3 separate regions of the Homo sapiens genome follow, and regions 2 and 3 are each linked to region 1. The links come from fine-mapping of genetic effects on gene expression. A gene starts in region 1. Each other region holds a variant in brackets. All regions are shown on one strand. Distances are from middle to middle.

Region 1 (2,760 bases):
AGAGGCCCCAGGGAGTTTCTGGAAGAGAGCAAGTGGATCCTGTGCCCAGGGGAAATGAGACTGGACATGGCTGATCCTTGGCAAGATATCTGAGACAGCAAATGACTCTCCTGCCCCTTCTAGGGATGCTTCTGGCCCCAGGTCCTCGCTCTGTCCTGTCACTGCCCCATCTTTGATCAGGCCATAGTCCCAGGCAGGTCCCTGGACTGGTGAATACACCCATCCTGTGTCTCACCTTCTTGAAGGCTTTGTGACTTTCAGACTGAAGAGTGGCTAAATCTATCCAGGCTAATGTGTTAACAATAAAGGGAAGAAAGCATTTCTCTCTACTTGTGGGGCTTTCTCCCCCTCTGGGGTACAGAATGTACATTTTAACTGGGGTATTCTGGAGACGATGTGTCCACTTCTGCTATTGCTATCAAGGAATGCCTTTTATTTCAGTCCAGGCAGGAAAGAGGCAGTGTCATGTCAGAGGAGGGATTCTGGGGGCGGCAGAGCCAGGCAGGGCACAGAAATTGCGCCATATTGCTACCTAGCTGGGCTGTTCCCTCACACATATGGTGGAGGAAGGGAGAAGAGAGGTGCTGAGATCTGGGCCCTCAGCAGGAAGGTGTCCCTCCTGTCCCACCAGTATGGGGCTCCTCCAGGGGTGGTACAGGCCAGCAGCCTGAGCACCAAATCCTTCCCATCTTAGCGGCTCCAGCCAGTGTGGCTGCCACATGCAGGGACTGGAACCCACACGTGCACAGCTGGGGGTCATGCAGGGCAGGCAAGCGACTGATGGTGACAAAGACAGTCCCTGACGTGCCTGCCGAATGTCTGCCTTCCCCAGGACACCCGCCTTGGCGAGCCTCCCATCCGCGATTCACGCACACCTTCATGCACACTGGCACGCTGAAACCCGGACTGAGGTTACTGCGGGCTTGGGGCTTCCGGAGAAGACGCAGGGGCAGGGCCTAGAAGGAGGGGCCGGAGGAGCCAGGGAGTCCTGGCCTGAGAGGAGGGGTAGGAGCCGTGGGTGGGGCAGGTTCCCTAAGCGGGGAGGGCGATGGGGGCTGACACTAGGGGGTGTCAGGGAGCGAGGAAATTGACCCGGCAGGATGAGGGCGTGGCGAGGGGGGCCTGGAGCTTGGCGACCCCGGGAAGGGGCTCCGGGAGGGTCTGGGGAATGAATGGGGCAACATATGGCGGCTACTGGGGATACCTGGGGCGGGGAGGGTCTGGGAGGGTCTGTGATACGGATCTGCGGAGCTGTCCGCCCTACCTGTCCGGGGAGCCGCCGTCTGGGGCCAAGGGCTCCCCCTCGGGCCGTTGCTCCCCTTCCGGACCCGGGCCGGGAGCCGGACCGCTGCCGCCGCTGCTGCTGCTGCTGTCACCGTCCATGCCCGTGGGCGGCACCGCTGTCCGGGCGCTGGTGCTGAAGCCGCGGCGGCGGCGGCGGCGGCGGCGGTGGCGGCGGCAGCGGCGGCGGGGTGCTCGTGCGCATGCGTAGGCTCTGAGCGGGCCGGTCGCTGGGCGGGGCGAGGAGGAGCCCAGCCAATGGGCGCGGCGCCGCTGCCGGAGCGGAGCGCTCTGTCTCTAAGATCCCGGGGCTGCGGATGTGAGCGCCCCTCTGCTCCCGCCAGGCCAGAGAGCCGCTGTTAGGAGTCCGGCCGTGCAACCCTTCCTAGCGGCCTCGGCCTTCCCGTAAGGAACCAGAGAGCGCGACACATGCAGAGATCCTCACAAATCAAAACGCAGACCCTTCCAGCCGGATAGAGGGCGAGCTCCACGCCCGCACTTCACCACGCTGGACGCCCCGGGTCGAGGCGGGCGGCTTCAGGCCTGCGAGGTTCCCGGCTCGCTCAGCGCCCTCCTCCCCTCCCCAGTGGGGCGAGGCATCAGGTTGGGTCTTTCTTCCCATCCTTCTGGACTTCGACTTGGACCTGGGTGTGCACCCCTTAGATGCGGAGCCCTGACTCCGTTACTCAAGTGCGCAGTCTGGTGAAGGAGGTGGGGGAAGAAGAGAGGCGCTCAGATCATCCCCAGCTCCTTCTCTTTCTTTTTTAAAATTTAAAAGGTTTATAAAGCAAACAAATCACAGTAAGCTAAGGTTAATTTTTGATTCAGGGGCACATGTGCAGGTTTGTTATAAGGGTATATTGAGTGATCCCAGATCCTTTTTTATAGTCACCGCTGCCCCCCCACCCCACCTCAGCCTGGGAGGTGCCCAATAGCCACTGACTCCAGGGCACTGGGAGGTGCCCAATAGCCACTGACTCCAGTGCCACCTCCCCCACCAGGGAGTAGCTGTGAGTAGAGCACATTTGGGTATGATGGACTGTGGACAGGCCTGGCTAAGGGGTCTAGAACTAGAATAGATATTGGCAGTGTGAGAAGCCTGGGGGGCTGGGAGTGGAGAGGATCCTGGATGTGGGATTTGACTAGGCAGAAAGGGTTTTACAGCAAGCAGGCTGTTCAGGGCCTGGTTACTTGTGCAGGGAGAGGCCTTGGTTGAAGACATGGGGCTGAGGAGAGAGTCAGGAACACTTGGACTATAGGTATCCCTAAAATGTGTGCCAATGCCAGTCCGTGTAAGACACAGGTCATAAGAAATGGGGTGGAAGAATCTAGAGGTGTAGAAGTGTTGGGTCTGCCCTGAATAGCTTATAGTTTGGTTGGAGAGATAAAGGGCCAGCCCATAAATTGCTGCCAATAGGCAAGATATGGTGAGGCCCATGAGGTGGTTGAGAAGGGGACAGTATGCAAAAAGGAAGGACC
Region 2 (2,734 bases), 310 kb before region 1:
ACTCGTGATCCGCCCGCCTTGGCCTCCCAAAGTGCTGGGATTACAGGCGTGAGCCACTGCGCCCAGCCATTTCCTGGGGATTAAAATATCTTACATCATGATTTTTTCCCTAAATATTTCTGGTGAAATATTTTTAAAGGAGTGAAATGTATATTTTTGCCACTTGGGATTTATTCTGTCATTCAGTCTAAAAACCTTCTTCAGCTGTGAGTGTAATTAATCTCAGCTATAGGTCCTACCAGGCTCAGTCTGATTTGTTATTTACGTTCCTTTTTCTTTTTTTTTGGAGATGGAGTCTCACTCTGTCACCCAGGCTGGAGTGCAGTGGCGCCATCTCAGCTCACTGCAACCTCCGCCTCCCAGGTTCAAGCAATTCTCCTGCCTCAGCCTCCCAAGTAGCTGGGATTACAGGCATGTGCCAACACGTCCAGCTAATTTTTGTATTTTTAGTAGAGATGGGGTTTCACCATGTTGGCCAGGCTGGTCTTGAACTCCCGACCTCAAGTGATGAAGCACAAAAATACAGTTAGATAGAATGAATAAAATCTAGTATAGGATAACATAAGGTGATTAAAAATTTTTAAAAATAATTATATGTGATACTAAGTTTAGCATAAAAACAGATTTTAGACAGAATCAGTTTATATATCATGAAATCTTTGTACCTCGGCCTCCCAAAGTGCTGGGATTACAGGCATGAGCCACCGTGCCCAGCCTTACTGTTGCTTTTCACAAACTTTAGAACTGAAGAAAATTTTAGGCCAGCTGTGGTGGCTCACACCTGTAATCCCAGCACTTTAGGAGGCCAGTGTGGGTGGATTACTTGAGCCAGGAGTTTGAGACCATCTTGGGCAACATGTTGAAATCACATCTCCACAAAAATTAGCTGGGGGTGGTAGTGTGCATCTGTAGTCCCAGCCATTCGAGAGGCTGATATGGTAGGATCGCTTGAGCCCAGAGAGGTCAAGGCTGCAGTAAGCCATGATCGTGATACTGCACTCCAGCCTGAGTGACAGAGAGAGACCCTGTCTAAAAAAAAGAAAGAAAAAATTTTAGAAGCAAACATATTAATGCTGGAATCAATCTCTTGCCCCACAAGTATTTTTTATTTGTGGAGCAATCACCTTCAAACTCTTGTTCTTCAAGTCTGATCTGGATCTTTGGGGCTGAGCTCTGTTATGAAGTCATGTTCTAAGAAACAGTAATAATCTCACTTTCTTATTGACCAAAAAAGACATATATATTTGAGACTGGGCACAATGACTCAGGCCTGTAATTCCAGCCCTTTGGGAGGCTGAGGCGAGAAGATCATTTGAGCTCAGGAGTTTGAGACCAGCCTGGGCAACATAGTGAGACTTGGCCTCTCAAACAAACAAACAAAAAAAGACATAAATATTAAAAAAAAAAAAAAAAACAAAAAAAAAAAAACAGATTAGGAGAAGAATGAGTGATAAACAACATTACTTAGAAACAAATATATGGGGCCAGGCATGGTGGCTCACGCCT[G/A]TAATCCCTGCACTTTGGGATACAGAGGCAGATGGATTACCTCAAAAAAAAAAAGAAAGAAAGAAAAGAAAAGAAATATATCATAAGTACTTGTTAAAAGAATGAAAATAGGCTGGGCACAGTGGCTCATGCCTGTAATCCCAGCACTCTGGGAGGCCGAGGTGGATGAATCACCTGAGGTCAGGAGTTTGAAACCAGCCTGGCCAACATGGTGAAACCCTGTCTCTACCAAAAATACACAAATTAGCTGGGTGTGGAGGTGCACGCCTGTAATCCTAGCTACTCAGGAGGCTGAGGCAAGATAATCGCTTCAACCTGGGAGGCGAAGGTTTTGGTGAGCCGAGATAGGCCACTGCACTCCAGCCTGGGTGACACAGCAAGACTTCCGTCTCAAAAAAAAAAGAATGAAAATAAATGAGCTAGGTACCTACCATCACAAGAAGTTAGAAAAAGAATAGCAAACTGGGTGCAGTGACCGACACCTATAATCCCAGCAATTTGGGAAGCTGAGATGGGAGGATCTCTTGAGCCCAGGAGTCCGAGACCAGCCTGGGCAACATAGTGAGACCACATCTCAAAAACAAGAAAAATTTTTATTTTTTAATTTTTAGATGGGGGTTTCACTCTTGTTGCCCAGGCTGGAGTGCAATGGTGCGATCTCGGCTCCCTGCAACCTCTGTCTCCCGGGTTGAAGCAATTCTCCTGCATCAGCCTCCCAAGTAGCTGGGATTACAGGCATGTGCCACCATGACTGGCTAATTTTGTATTTTTAGTAGAGACACGGTTTCTCCATGTTGGTCAGGTTGGTCTCAAACTTTCGACCTCAGGTGATCTGCCCACTTCAGCCTCCCGAAGGGTTGGCATTACAGGCATGAGCCACCATGCCCAGCCAAGAAAAAAAAATTTTTTAGAGATAGGGTCTTGCTATGTTGTGTAGGCTGGATTTGAATTCTTGGCCTGAAGCACCCTGCTTGAACTCGGCCTAATCTCAGTTTTGAATAGGTAGGTGTCTCCAGAGGAAGGTTTCTTTGGTATATCTTCAAAGGTCTATTGGATAAATGCTAAAATATTCTTTATAAAGAAACACTACTCACAAAAGATTTAAAGTAATAAACTTATTTTAATAGTGCAAAATGTAATCTGCTTTCCAACCAATGAAAGAAAAACTTTCAAAAAATTTATGAAACTAGTCAATACCTTGAACAAAGAAAAACACAAATAACTAAGT
Region 3 (2,760 bases), 34 kb before region 1:
GACCAACCTGAAGGTTGGGAAAACTTGCTTAAATGAGGAATTGCCATTTCAGCATAAACTGTCCTTAAGTCTACTGTAGAAATTGTTTTCATTCTGGAGATGGTGAGTCCCAGAAGATCATGGCCAAGATGATGTCCTAAGTAGCTTCCTCTGAGATTTTATGCCCAAGAGGGAGCCATCTGGCCACTTGCTTCTTCTTACATTTCTAATAGCTGCTCCATTTCCTTAAGGGCTGTTGTTAAATCATTTACTTGATTGTTACATAAGGTTTGCTGTTCTAGGAATCGGACTCTTTCCTCTTTCATCTCCAGCTTTACCTTTAAGGCCTGCATGGAAAGACATTCCAAAAGAAAACAACACATACACAAAACTCTTGACTAACAGGAAACACAATTCCCACATCAGAACATTATGCTCCTATTCCACTAAGGAAGACCACTGGAGTATCAACAGACTGTATCTTCTATTTTAGATTTTATTTCTATGCACTGGTTTTAGGAATTGTCCCTCTAGTAGTAGAGAGGGACTAGACTCCTGTATCTAAACTGGAACGATGAAATCCTCTACATTTGGTGCAATATCCCATGATTCATCCAAGCAATCTGAAACAGTCCAGACCAAAGAATCTGTGCTTACTACAGGTCTTCTCCTTGAGTTATCAAGTTTCCATAGAATGGATTACATATAGTTCTCAATTCCCAACTCTGAGCAACCTACTGTGTTACACATTGCCTCATGCCTTGGTGATGTGAACATTTGCAAGAAGCCTCGGTAACAGAAAAAAAAAAATTAGTGGAAAAAACTGCTAAAATCCAAATGAAGACTTGGAATATAGTTAATAGTAATGTACTGATGTTGGTCTGTTTTTTAAAAAATTTTTTTCCTGCCGGGTGCAGTGGCTCACACCTGCAATCTCAGCACTTTGGGAAGCCTAGGCGGGCAGATCACCTGAGGTCAGGAGTTCGAAACCAGCCTGGCCAACACAGTGAAACCCTGTCTCTACTAAAAATATAAAAATTAGCCGGTCATGGTCGCAAATGCCTGTAATCCCAGCTACTTGGGAGACTGAGGCAAGAAAATCGCTTGAACCCGGGAGGCGGAGGTTGCAGTGAGCCGAGATCACGCCATTGCACTCCAGCCTGGGGGACAACAGTGAGACTTTATCTCCTTGCCCTCCTGGGCCCAAGTGGTCTTCTTGCCTCAGCCTCCTGAGCAGCTGGGACTACAGGTATGTACCACCACGCCTGGCTATTTTCTAAATTTTATTTTGTAGAGATGGGGTCTTGTTATGTTTCCCAGGCTGGTCTCAAACTCCTGGCTTCAAGTAATCCTTCCACCTCAGCCTCCCAAAGTGCTGGGATTATAGGCGTGAGCCACCATGCCTGGCTGATTTCTTAGTTTTGACAAATGTACCAGGATAATGTAAGATGTTACTATTGGGGGTGGAGGAGGAAGTGCATCAAGAAGAATAGCTAATGGATGCTGGGCTCAATACCTAGGTGATGGGATGATCTGTGCAGCTAACCACCATGGCACACGTTTACCTGTGTAACAAGCCTACACACCCTGTACGTGTACCCCTGAACTTAAAAGTTGGAAAAAAAAAAA[C/AAC]ACGTTACTATCAGGGTAAATTTTCTGTATTATCTTTGTAACTTTCCTATAAATCTAAAATTATTTAGAAAGTTTATTAAAAATAAATAGAAAAACAGAAAAGACCCCACTATAAATCTACCTATCATGGTAGGAAATGGTCAGGGTGATGTCTGCCTCTCACCTGTAACTCCTCCATCTGCTTTTTGGCTGTTTCGTTAAAAAGCTTCAGCTCCTCTTGCAAAGTTTCTAACAGCAACTAAGAGGAAAGCACAATGTAGTAAACAAATCTTCATATAAAACCAGACTTGCATTAGATGATGGCTAACATCCTTTCCACACAGTTCTCAACAAAGGAGTCAGGAGAGAAATTTGATAAAGTATAGAACAGAAGAACGAGAAAGCTCTCTCTACAGGTTTACCTATTATGTGTTTTAAATTTTCAATTCAGACTCACTTATATTTGTAAGCACAAAGCTACCTTTCAAGTAAAATATGCTATTTTGAGTACACATCCCATTTCTCTTTTCTAGCATCACAGATAATCAAAGGCTGTTTCTTGGAGTTTATGGAATATATAGCAGAGACCTTCTTAGATTTACAGAGCCCCACAGTCACTCAGCCCTTGCGCCCTTTCACACCCATGCCCTCACCATAGAGTCCATGTGATCAGTAGTGGATTCTTGTCGTGATGCCAGGGTCTCACTGCCTAAAGCTGATGGATACAACAAAGTCAATCTCACTTAGGGAACTACACACCCTAAACAAAAGAAAATAAAAACCCTCCGTGGACAAGTACAGAAATATTCATGAGGGGAATTTCTCTTAAGTGTCTCATCCTGGACTTTCTCCTAAGTTTTCACCTTGGCAGGGTCACCCATATCTGCCCTGCAAAACTGTATTTTATCTCCTTTCAATCTAGGTTTTGATATGGCCAAAAATTCGGTATACTTTCTCCTTAGGTCAGTGGACAATTTGTCCAAAGGAAATGTATAGGTTGGATTTTTTTTGGTTTTGTTCACAATTCACAAAGCTATTTTTAAGAGCCTTTCAGGCCTTAAAAAATTATTACTTTCGGTAATATCACATGCATGTAATAAACTAAAATCATACAAAATATTTATGGTGTCGGATGTGGTGGTGCACACCTGTAGTCCCAGCTATTTGGGAGGA

Alleles and levels. Positions count from the first base shown, and alleles are read on the strand shown. Sizes are in standard deviations (SD) of each study's normalised expression. Not every link is listed here.
As copies of C replace AAC in region 3, the expression in fibroblasts of the gene that starts at base 1,486 in region 1 goes down (moderate effect, 0.66 SD a copy in GENCORD).

Evidence for each region. PIP is the estimated chance that this variant, and not a neighbour inherited with it, causes the effect.
Region 2: its variant is fine-mapped to the expression of DISP2 in subcutaneous fat (GTEx, PIP 0.94).
Region 3: its variant is fine-mapped to the expression of DISP2 in fibroblasts (GENCORD, PIP 0.95).

The regions. Positions count from the first base shown.
Region 1 is chr15:40,356,945-40,359,704 of GRCh38, reverse strand. DISP2 (dispatched RND transporter family member 2) reads right to left here and starts at 1,486. Exons shown (of 8, transcript NM_033510.3): 1 at 1,265-1,486. The coding sequence starts at 1,383. RefSeq lists a silencer at 1,306-1,565.
Region 2 is chr15:40,664,215-40,666,948 of GRCh38, reverse strand. KNL1 (kinetochore scaffold 1) reads right to left here. Exons shown (of 26, transcript NM_144508.5): 26 at 2,607-2,734. Among named protein-coding and RNA genes, the nearest start is that of RAD51-AS1, 30 kb to the left of the region's middle. The variant G/A (reference allele first, on the strand shown) is at 1,507.
Region 3 is chr15:40,391,035-40,393,794 of GRCh38, reverse strand. KNSTRN (kinetochore localized astrin (SPAG5) binding protein) reads right to left here. Exons shown (of 9, transcript NM_033286.4): 7 at 2,241-2,302; 8 at 1,772-1,846; 9 at 1-326. The coding sequence ends at 198. Among named protein-coding and RNA genes, the nearest start is that of KNSTRN, 9.7 kb to the right of the region's middle. The variant C/AAC (reference allele first, on the strand shown) is at 1,609.